Linked DNA regions of Homo sapiens. The protein of the gene in region 1 interacts with the protein of each later gene in a pairwise test. Each region holds a gene or a part of one and is shown in the gene's direction. Other genes may lie near its edges. The genes, in order: CCDC88B, RALBP1 and CWF19L2.

Region 1 (3,650 bases):
GCAGGTGCATGCGAGTCTATCAGGGAAGGTTTTGTGGAGAAGGTGGGGTTGAAACAGAGGCTTAGAGAAGGCCCCACACAGCAGCTCATGCCTGTAATCCCAGCACTTTGGGAGGCCAAGGCAGGTGGATCACCTGAGGTCAGGAGTTCGAGACCAGCATGACCAATATGGTGAAACCCCATCTCTACTAAAAATACAAAAATCAGGCCGGGCGTGGTGGCTCACGCCTGTAATCCCAGCACTTTGGGAGGCCGAGGCAGATGGATCATGAGGTCAGGAGATCGAGAGCATCCTGATGAACACCGTGAAACCCCATCTCTACTAAAAATACAACAACAACAACAAAAATTAGCTGTTAGCTGGGCATGGTAGTGGGCGCCTGTAGTCCCAGCTACTCAGGAGGCCGAGGCAGGGGAATTGCTTGAACCTGGGAGGAGGAGGTTGCAGTGAGCCGAGATCACACCACTGCACTCCAGCCCGGGTGACAGAGTGTGACTCCGTCTCAAAAAAACCCAAAAAAACAAAAAAAACCCTAAAAATTAGCCAGGCGTGGTGGCCCACATCTGTAATCCCAGCTACTCGGGAGGCTAAGGCAGGAGAATTGCTTGAACCCGGGAGGCAGAGGTTGCAGTGAGCCCAGATCACACCTCTGCACTCCTGGCTGGGTGGCAGAGTGAGACTCTGTCTCAAAACAAAAACAAAAAACCAAATAGTCTTAGAGGAGTAGTGGGATGGAGAAGTGTTATGAGCAGAAGGCTCTGCCGCAGAGAGACAGAAGTTGAGAAGGGCAGGGTGGTGACGGTGGAGCTTCAGGAACCAGGAGCAGGGACTTGTGGGATCCAAGGGAAGGCATGGGATTGGGGCGGGGTGGACTAGGCTAAATGCTGCTGGCAGGGCAGGTCCATAAGCGCAGGTCCTTGAGGCATCCCCAAGGCACTGCGGCTGTCCCGCATGACCTCCCAGGGACTCTCCTTGCAGCTGCGCCAGGGCCCCGCGGGGCTGGGGCCCAAAAAGCGTGCGGAGCCTCAGCTGGTGGAGACCCAGAATGTGCGGCTTATTGAGGTGGAGCGCAGTGTGAGTGTGGGCCCACAGTGGGCCCTGGGGAGGTGCCCCGTGCAGTGTGAGTGTGGGTCCACGGTGGACCCTGGGCTGGGGGGTATCCCGTGCAGTGTGAGTGTGGACTCACAGTGGGCCCGGGGGTGGGGGTGCCCCATGCAGTGTGAGTGTGGGCCTGTGGTAGGCACTAGGGGGTGCCCCCGCCACCTGGCTATTGCTAACCCCCACTTCTGGGCAGAATGCGATGCTGGTGGCAGAGAAGGCAGCTTTGCAGGGGCAGCTGCAGCACCTGGAGGGGCAGCTGGGGAGCCTGCAGGGCCGTGCCCAGGAGCTGCTGCTGCAGAGCCAGCGGGCGCAGGAGCACAGCAGCCGCCTGCAGGTGGGTGGTGGCCCGGGTGCCCATCCCTGCCCATGTACTGCCCCCTCCTGCTCCTTTTGGATCATCCTGTGGCCTTTTTCTATCCCAGCTCCCAGCCAGCTGCCCCACCTCTTCCCCAGTCTCATTTATCCTTGTCCTCTGACCCCAGCCACCATTTTGCACCATCCTCCCTGCCACTATCTCCTCCTACCTGCCGCCAGCCCCCACATCTACACCCATGTCGCCCTGCGCTCTCACTGTCCCAGCCCTCCCCTCCACAGGGCGCCATTAGTCCCATTCTGCCCTGTGCCCCTTCCGGACAGCCTGGCCCAGCCAGCCTCTGCCGCCTCTCCCCTGCTCACCATCAGCCTCTGGCTGGGGCTTGTACTGCCTGCTGTGCCCCCAGCCCTTTGCCTCCTCCACAACTCTCTCATTGTCTTGGGCCCTACCGTCTGCCCTTAGCCCCCCGCCTCTCACTCGATTTCCAGCCAGGGGTTCCTCCCCAGCAGCCCCTGCTTCCCTCCTCCATCCTAGGCCGAGAAGTCTGTGCTGGAGATTCAGGGCCAGGAGCTGCACCGGAAGCTGGAGGTGCTGGAGGAGGAGGTGCGGGCGGCACGGCAGTCCCAGGAGGAGACCCGCGGGCAGCAGCAGGCCCTGCTTCGGGACCACAAGGCCCTGGCACAGCTGCAGCGGCGGCAGGAGGCCGAGCTAGAGGGACTGCTGGTGCGGCACCGAGACCTCAAGGCCAACATGCGGGCACTGGAGCTGGCCCACCGGGAGCTGCAGGGCCGGTGAGCATCACCAAATGCCCAGCTCCTCCCCTGGCACCCCCTATCTGCCAGAGAAGACTCCCCTCAGCAGGTCTGACTCCCCATCAGGAAGCACCTCCACCTCCGCTCTGTGATGCCCCGGCCACTGCTGTGCCCTCTGGGGTAGCTGTGCTCCCCACACTTCTGGGTTGGGCTCCCCGTGGGGCTCACCTATTGGGAGTGGTGGGCACCTGGCATGGCATTCTGCCCAATGGCTTCCTCTGGGGGACCTAGGCTTAGGAGGTGACAGACCCCCCCGCCCCGGGTCCAGATAGTCCAGCCAGCTGCTTGTGGTGGCCATAGGTTCACACAGCCCTCTTAGCCCCTTGTCCATCCCAGGCACGAGCAGCTGCAGGCCCAGCGGGCCAGCGTGGAGGCACAGGAGGTGGCCCTGCTGGCAGAGCGTGAACGCCTGATGCAAGATGGGCATCGGCAGCGGGGCCTGGAGGAGGAGCTGCGGAGGCTTCAGAGCGAGCACGACAGGTGCCGCCCCTGCCACAGCCTCTAGCAGCTCTCAGTGGCCCCATCCTGAAAGTGGGTTGGGGGTGTGGGGTCCTGTCTGGCCTCCCCTCCCCGGCATAACTTCTCTGGCCAGCACTCGGACTGGGGACCCAGGTCCCTTGGAGAGCAGCTCTCCTTGCCTCCCAAGGGCTCAGATGCTGCTGGCAGAGTTGTCTCGGGAGCGGGGTGAGCTGCAGGGTGAACGCGGGGAGCTACGGGGCCGGCTGGCGCGGCTGGAGCTGGAGCGGGCACAGCTGGAGATGCAGAGCCAGCAGCTGCGCGAGTCCAACCAGCAGCTGGACCTGAGCGCCTGCCGGCTGACCACGCAGTGTGAGGTGTGGCTGGAGGGCCGGTGGGGGTATGGGCGTGTGGTGGGGCAGAAAGCCTAGACCCAGGTGGTCCTGAGCTGGGTCCCACCCTCCGAGCCATGGTGCCCCCCTGCCAGCTATTGACACAGCTGCGAAGTGCCCAGGAAGAGGAGAACCGGCAGCTGCTGGCTGAAGTTCAGGCCCTGAGCCGGGAGAACAGGGAGCTCCTGGAGCGCAGCCTGGAGAGTCGGGACCACCTGCACCGCGAACAGCGGGAGTACCTGTGAGTGGGCCGCCTGGGAGCGGGGTGGGGCCTGCATCCCCTTTGGGCGTTCCTGGGGAGAGCCCTTAGTGAGGGCCTAGGGACAGGGTTGGAGCTGACCTTCCAGGTCAGTCCAATCTGCGGCACGGGACCAGTGCGTCCTCGCTGCAGCTTGTGCCTTGCTACTGCCTCGGCCTCCCTGGGCCTCACACCCACCTCTCCCTTCTCACTCCTGCCAGGGACCAGCTTAATGCCCTGCGCCGCGAGAAGCAGAAGCTCGTGGAGAAGATCATGGACCAATACCGCGTGCTGGAGCCTGTGCCCCTGCCCCGGACCAAGTGAGCAGCCCTGTCACC
Region 2 (3,650 bases), on another chromosome or scaffold:
CCATGTTTTCAAGAAGCCCAGCTTTTCTAAAAAGAAGGAAAAGGATTTTAAAATAAAAGAGAAACCCAAAGAAGAAAAGCATAAAGAAGAAAAGCACAAAGAAGAAAAACATAAAGAGAAGAAGTCAAAAGACTTGACAGCAGCTGATGTTGTTAAACAGTGGAAGGAAAAGAAGAAAAAGAAAAAGCCAATTCAGGAGCCAGAGGTGCCTCAGATTGATGTTCCAAATCTCAAACCCATTTTTGGAATTCCTTTGGCTGATGCAGTAGAGAGGACCATGATGTATGATGGCATTCGGCTGCCAGCCGTTTTCCGTGAATGTATAGATTACGTAGAGAAGTATGGCATGAAGTGTGAAGGCATCTACAGAGTATCAGGTACTGGGAATGTGCACTTCACTTGATGGTTTTTAATAATAACTTCAGTTTCATTTTTCGAAGGAAGAAAAATTATTGTGAGGAAAATTTGGCCTGGATCCTAAGCCTTATTCATTTCCTTGATCCTACCAGTTGCACAAAAATCCACCCCTCTCCCCAGCCTTTCTTTGGTGTTCTGGCATTTGTTTTTTTAATATTTCCTTCCATTAGGAGGATTTCACGTTAGTTGTTCATAGCTTGCAGCAGCCAGGACTAAAACAAAGTGAAGTATACTGGCAGCATTGCTTAACAGGGCTGCATTCAGACCCTGCTTTTTTTTTTCTTTTGTTTGTTTGTTTTTTTGAGACAGAGTCTCGCTCTGTTGCCCAGGCTGGAGTGCAGTGGCGTGATCTCGGCTTACTGCAACCTCTGCCTCCTGGGTTCAAGCGATTCCCCTGCCTCAGGCTCCTGAGTAGCTGGGATTACAGGCGCCTGCCGCCACACCCAGCTAATTTTTGTATTTTTAGTAGAGGCAGGGTTTCACCATGTTGGTCAGGCTGGTCTCGAACCCCTGACCTCAGATGATCTGCCCTCCTCGGCCTCCCAAAGTGCTGGGATTACAGGAGTGAGCCACCACTCCCAGGCGCCTGCTTTTTTTTTTTTTTTTTTCTTTCCTCTCTAAGCAGAGGCTCAGTGGTATGAGGGCCATCAGCAAGAAAAGAAAGGTTAACTGTGTGAAGGAAGCTTCTTGGCCAAGAGACACGTTTATGGACACAGTCATATAATGCATTTCCTTAGCTCAGCTAAGAGGCATGACATGGTTTTGGTTTTGGTTTTCTTGGTGCGCGGTTCTTAGAGTTAGTGCAGTACCCGGTCAATACATGGAGTGGTCCAAGCAAGCTTCTGTTCCATCTCCCTGCTCCAGAAATCCTAGAACAGATACTACACCCAACTTTAGCCAAAAGACCAAGAAGCAGTAAATGTTTAGGCCCCACATGTGAATGCTTTGGTCAGCTACATGCAACTATTACGTATATTAGCAAAATGGATTTTCTATTTATCTTTATTCCATATGTATACAAATTAAATTTCATACTTGGAAAGAATGTGTTTTGATTGGGTATCTAAATCAAGCAATATGTATATTATTTAAAAGTAAAAAGATTTCTTAGAAAGCGGTATGACTTTTATACCAGGATAGGATGAAAGCCCTGACCTGTAGCAGCATCTGTGTTCCAAATTATTACATTCCCATTATTCAGTGTCTTGGTACCTCATCAGTTTCTGTTTAGAGATTTGTTTTATAAAGTTAATTGTTGGCTGAGGCAGGAGGATCACTTGAACCCAGGAGTTTGAGGCTGCAGTGAGCCATGATCGTACCACTGCACTCCAGCCAGGGCGAGATTGAGACCTTGTCTCAAAAATAATAATAATAATACTTGTTGGTCACAAGTACTTTCATGATGAGTTGTTAAGTCATACACATGTGGAATATATAGAGAGATAGACTTAGTTTTTTCATTTAGTTGGTTCATACGCAATTCTAGAAGGTAGATTTGATACTTAAGTTTTGCTGAGAAAGGGCAGATATTTTTGATAATTGGGAAAACCGTTACATAATCCACTAGATTACATGCCATTATTTAAGAGTATTTTTGGTAAAATGTTACTTTTTTATAGAAAATTAAATAAATTAGGCATTGAATTTGAGTTTATAACTCCTTAGTATTATATAAATATATTTAAACAAATATTTGATTTTTATGAATAATTGGCTAGGCATGGTAGCTCACGCCTGTAATCCCGGCACTTTGGGAAGCCGAGGTGGGCAGATCACGAGGTCAGGAGATTGAGACCATCCTGGCCAACATGGCGAATCCCTGTCTGTACTAAAATACAAAAAATTAGCCAGGAGTGGTGGCGCACGCCTGTAGTCCCAGCTGCTTGGGAGGCTGAGGCAGGAGAATAGCTTGAACCCGGGAGGCAGGGGTTGCAGTGAGCAAAGATCGCGCCACTGCACTCCAGCCTGGCAACAGAGCAAGATTCTGTCTCAAAAAAAAAAAAAATAAATAAATAATAATAATAATATACTGAATTGAGTTTTAAACATTTAAACATTAATAACATAAGTTGCTTCTCTCACATGGTCTTAATAGCCATGAATTAGTTTTGTTTTAGGTAAAAGTTTTTCTGAAAATTTTCCACAGCTTTGTTCAAAGGATTCTTTTTGTCTCTGACCTACTTTTAATGTCTGCATTTTTTTTGGAAATTCAGAGTCATAGAACTCTTCTCTGTGTGTAAAAGCATTCAGACAGAGCTGCTGCCCATCCTTGCAACAGCTAGGGGCTGAACTCCTGCTCTGCTGAGTTTTGGGTTTATTCTCTAACCTGTGGCAATGTGCTGTAGTCAGCCCGACTTATGCTACTGTCATGGACAGTGCTAATAATAATACTGCCTTTTGCTGGAGATGTTAGTTCTCACTTATGCATTTTAAGACCTTTTGCTGGAAGTGTTAGTTCTTGCTTATCTAATTTTAAACGAATATGAAAGACAATTTAAGTGATTTTGTACATTTTAATTTACTCATCTACATTTTCTTGTATTTTTTGGATTAAAGTGTACCTGTATGCTCTTTCTTTCTGTGGAACACTTCATTTGTAGTGTCCAATTTTTAAAAAGAAAACATTTTGATAACAGTTTCAGAGTAATGACAAACCAAACACACATTCTAATTGTCTACTTGTACAATTTGTTGGGTAGGTACTATAGGGGGAAGAATTAAATATACATGAGGAAGAGAAAAAATCTTTGCCAAGAATTTCAGTTATTATCACTTATGGTTTACCCATATTGTCATAAAAGTAAGAAAATGGGAATTCTAATTTTCTGTCACAAAATAAAGATTATATAAAAATAATAGTGTTATTTTTGTGTTTTGTTATTGATTTTATTTTATCAATACTGGATAAGTTACAGATTTATCATAATGCCATTAAAAGATTTTCACAAAGGATAAGGAATGCCAAAGTCCAGATGTAAGGAACCACTGTGAAGTGCTGTTCAGCTTAGACTGCATTTACCCACAGAAACTATCAGCGTTAATTTGTAGCTTGTTTCACATAATTGGCTGAAAGTGTTAAGTATTAAAAACAGCAAAAAACTACTTTGTGTTCTTCTGAGCAATCGCCACTAAATTACGTCACTTAATGCAGATTGTACTAAAGACTTAAAATCTTATGTAATGTTTGCAAATCATTTGCTTTAGTTTCCTTTTGTTCAATAAGCAAAACGATT
Region 3 (3,650 bases), about 43 Mb from region 1:
CTGTGTTAAAGTCTTGGTTTGCTGTTTCATTTTCTCTTGTTTTTTCCTGTTCTGTTTCAATTAAATGATTTTTCTCTTGAATATGGGTCACATTTGCTTGCTTCTTTGAATGTCTAGTAACTTTTAATTGGATGCTGAACCCTATGAAACTTATATTGTGACTGCTGGATTTTGTTGACTTCTTCAGAGAGTATTGAGTTTCCTTTTGGCATACAGTTAATTACTTGTGAATTAGCTTAATCCTTTTCAAGGATTGTTTTTAAGTTTTGTTCGTATGCACCTAGAATAGCTTTACTCTAGGACTGGTTTAGCCTTTCTACTAAGGCATGACCTTTGTGGGTTCTCTGCTGATTGTCATGGATGTTCAGCGAGGTTTCTTTATTCTGGTTGGGAGGAACTAGAATGTCTTCCAGCCCTTTGTGAGCTCTGGGGATTGTTCTGCTTACAGCTCTTTGGTAATTGTTTTCTCCATGGTAATTTTTCTTTGCCTGACCTTGTGGACTCTCATCCTCAGCATGTTCAGCTTGGTCTTTCTTTAAAGACTCCAGGGGTCCTTTAAGTAGATTTCTGGCACCCTTTCTCTGTGTAACTTCCCATCTGTACTTTTGTTTCAGCCTTCACAAAGTTCAAATTCCGTTTCCTTTGCTCAGTGAGATTTTCATGTTCTGCTTGGGTTACCCCTCTATGCCACAGTCTAGAAAGTGCCTTTAGATAAAAAGCTGTAGAGATTGTAGTTTCATTTTTATTCCAATTTGTATGTATTTCTAGTTTGATGCCATTTATTTTGTCAAGGACAGAAGCAGAAGTCCTCAAGATCCCTTGAGTTTTGCTGGTAGCACTTTTCTGTCTTAGTTCCACCTTCTAGGTTTTGACCACTAGATAGAATTAGAGGTGTGGTTAATTCTGCAGGCTGCACAAGAGAAGGAGAGCCCTGAAGGCTGTGTTAGGTCAGGAGGCGTATTAAGCTTGATAGTTAATGAGTTCAAGGTAAAATGGAGATTGAAACTAAAATTAGCAAGAGAACTGAAGTCGTAGCATGGGGAGCATCAATTTTGCTGAAGTGGTAAGGTGAGTGAGTGCATAATTGTGAAAATGAGTATAGGTTGCTGCTTAAAAGTTTCTGACTAGTGCTATTGAAAGAGTAGAAAAAGACATTTCATTTAATTTCAGCTTGCATTTATCAAATGCTTATTCTTTGCCAGACACTGTTCTAGACATGGGGAATATAAAAATATATTTTTAAACCTTTGGGGAACTCATTTCCTAATTGGATAAATAGATACATAATATTAATAATATGATTTTGTAGTAGATTTTGTAGAAGAAGATGTTGGCTTTATTTTCTGTTGTTACTGAGTTTAGCATACCATCCAACATGATGCCATGGTAGTACAGGGTATTAAGAGGGATTTCATTTGCTAACTTGTTGATTAAATGATGCTTGAATTGAGACTAGATAGATTAGTAAGCATTAGGCAAATAAAGGTGTGCTTGGCATTTCATGCATAAGGAATTGCGAGAGCAGAGACATGGAAGTATGAGATAATATGAGTGTGAGTATGTGTGTATGTATGTAAATATAACTATAAGCAATTTGATAGTACTAAATTATAAAACAAGAGGAGGGGGTGAATGGAGATGAAACTGTAAGAATTAATAGGGCCTTGTAAACCAAGAGCTTTGACTTTATTCAGTAGGGAATGTATCATCTAATTGGGTTCAGCTGCATTTATTAGAAAATCTCAGAATAGCCATTGATTATACAAGATAGAAATTCATTTTTTTCTGATATGAAATAAGTCAGGTAGACAGTCTAGGGCTAGTATGGTCTTCTGGGACCTAGGCTTCTATTGTCTTGCTTTTCCATCATCCTTACAGCATTGCCTCTTAGTCCAGATAACAGGAAAGAAGATGCTCTTTTTTTTCTTAACTTGACTTCCAGAAAGTCCCATAAAATACTTTTGTTTACATCTAATTGGACACTTGATCATAAGGCTTCACTTTCTAGCATGGGAAGTACATTACTTCTCCAAATAAAATGGGATTCTGTTGGTAGGAAAGAAGAGGGATAACTAGCAGTCTTTGTAATGGGAAGCCCTAGAAGAGAAGTACGGTGGTCAGATGTTCCCTTTATATTACTCTAAATGTATTTGGGGTGAGGGGTTGGAGAAAGAAGGGGAGCAGGAAAGATGAGTCCAGGAGATTAATTAGGTCTCCTGGAATCAGTTGTTTAGGTGAGAGATAAGATCTGATCTAGGGCTACTACTTTTTTTTTTTTTTTAAGGCGGAGTTTTGCTCTTGTCCCCCAGGCTGGAGTGCAATGGCACGATCTTGGCTCACCACAACCCCCGCCTCCCGGGTTCAAGATACTCTCCTTCCTCAGCCTCTCAAGTAGGTGGGAGTACAGGCATGCGCCACCACATCTGGCTAATTTTTGTATTTTTAGTAGAGATGGGGTTTCACCATCTTGGCCAGGCTGGTCTCGAACTCCTGACCTCATGATCCACCCGCCTCGGCCTCCCAAAGTGTTGGGATTACAGGCGTGAGCCACCGCGCCCAGCCTGGGGTGCTACTTTAAGGATCAAAGAAGAGAATATTAGTTGGTATTTTGGTTGCAGGTAACAGAAACTAAATATAAATTGGATTTTGCAAAAAGGATTTATTATTAAAGTACAAAATTCTCATAAGACATATAGATGTAGGAATGCAGCTAGGCTTCAAGAATAGCTGGAATTAGAATTGTGAATGGTTTTTGCAATTTTCTTGCCATTTTTCATTTCCCCTACCCTGAGTTCTAGTTTTTAAAAAATTTTTGCTGATTTCTATTTCTCATGACAGAAATGGCCTCTCCCAATGCCTTCCCATTTCTTAGTTTTAGATAAGCCCATTTAGACCTGATTTCAGATTCCTGTGGAATGGCTCAGGTTGATGTGAATTGGGTCAGGTACCTACGTTTGAACTAATCAGTAGTGGCCAGGGATAGAGGTAGGCTCGTATGGTAATCATGTATTCACTCTATGGTATATTTAATAAATATTTTAAAAATGAAAATGGTAGGCTTGAATATGTGAGGTAACATCATCCTGAGTTTCTGACTTGGTTTAAGTGGGTGGTTGGTTGTTCCAGATAACTCAGTTCAATACTATACAAGGAGAAGTAGATTTTGTAGAAGAAGAGGATAGCTTTATCTTCTGTTCTTACTGAGTTTAGCATGCCATCCAACTGCAGTAGACAATTAGTCAGTGAAACTTTGGTTAGACAAATTTGAAAGATATCAGCACAATTTATTGTAGTTCAGGCGATCAGAATGGATTTAATGGCCCAAAGGGAATGTTTAGACATTGAAAAATGTCATGGGCAAAGAATGGAATCCCAAATAACAAGATATTTAAGGGCTAAGCAAAGGAGGAAGAGTTCATGAAGGAAATGGAGAAGAAACAGAGTGGGAGGAGAGCTGAGAGGTGTCATGGAAGCCAGGAAAGTGAGTTATCAACAGAGTTGCATTAAGCAGAGAGGTCTAGAGAGCTGAAGACTGAAACGTTTTGTTGAGTTCGGCACAGTGGAAGCCACTGGTGAGTTTGGAGAAGTTTCAGTAGATTAATGGGGACAGTAGATGTATTGTAGAGTTTTGAGAAAATGTATGAAAGTGA

The links.
Region 2: the proteins of CCDC88B (region 1) and RALBP1 interact in binary tests that used the Homo sapiens proteins (3 or more experiments, as listed by UniProt).
Region 3: the proteins of CCDC88B (region 1) and CWF19L2 interact in binary tests that used the Homo sapiens proteins (3 or more experiments, as listed by UniProt).

Annotation. Positions count from the first base shown.
Region 1 is NC_000011.10:64,350,182-64,353,831, forward strand, and holds part of CCDC88B (coiled-coil domain-containing protein 88B), read left to right. Parts: intron 1-978; coding exon 979-1,074; intron 1,075-1,294; coding exon 1,295-1,435; intron 1,436-1,948; coding exon 1,949-2,205; intron 2,206-2,562; coding exon 2,563-2,706; intron 2,707-2,872; coding exon 2,873-3,059; intron 3,060-3,169; coding exon 3,170-3,315; intron 3,316-3,533; coding exon 3,534-3,632; intron 3,633-3,650. UniProt on the Homo sapiens protein: Acts as a positive regulator of T-cell maturation and inflammatory function.
Region 2 is NC_000018.10:9,516,927-9,520,576, forward strand, and holds part of RALBP1 (ralA-binding protein 1), read left to right. Parts: coding exon 1-377; intron 378-3,650. UniProt on the Homo sapiens protein: Multifunctional protein that functions as a downstream effector of RALA and RALB. As a GTPase-activating protein/GAP can inactivate CDC42 and RAC1 by stimulating their GTPase activity.
Region 3 is NC_000011.10:107,444,236-107,447,885, reverse strand, and holds part of CWF19L2 (CWF19-like protein 2), read left to right. Parts: intron 1-3,650.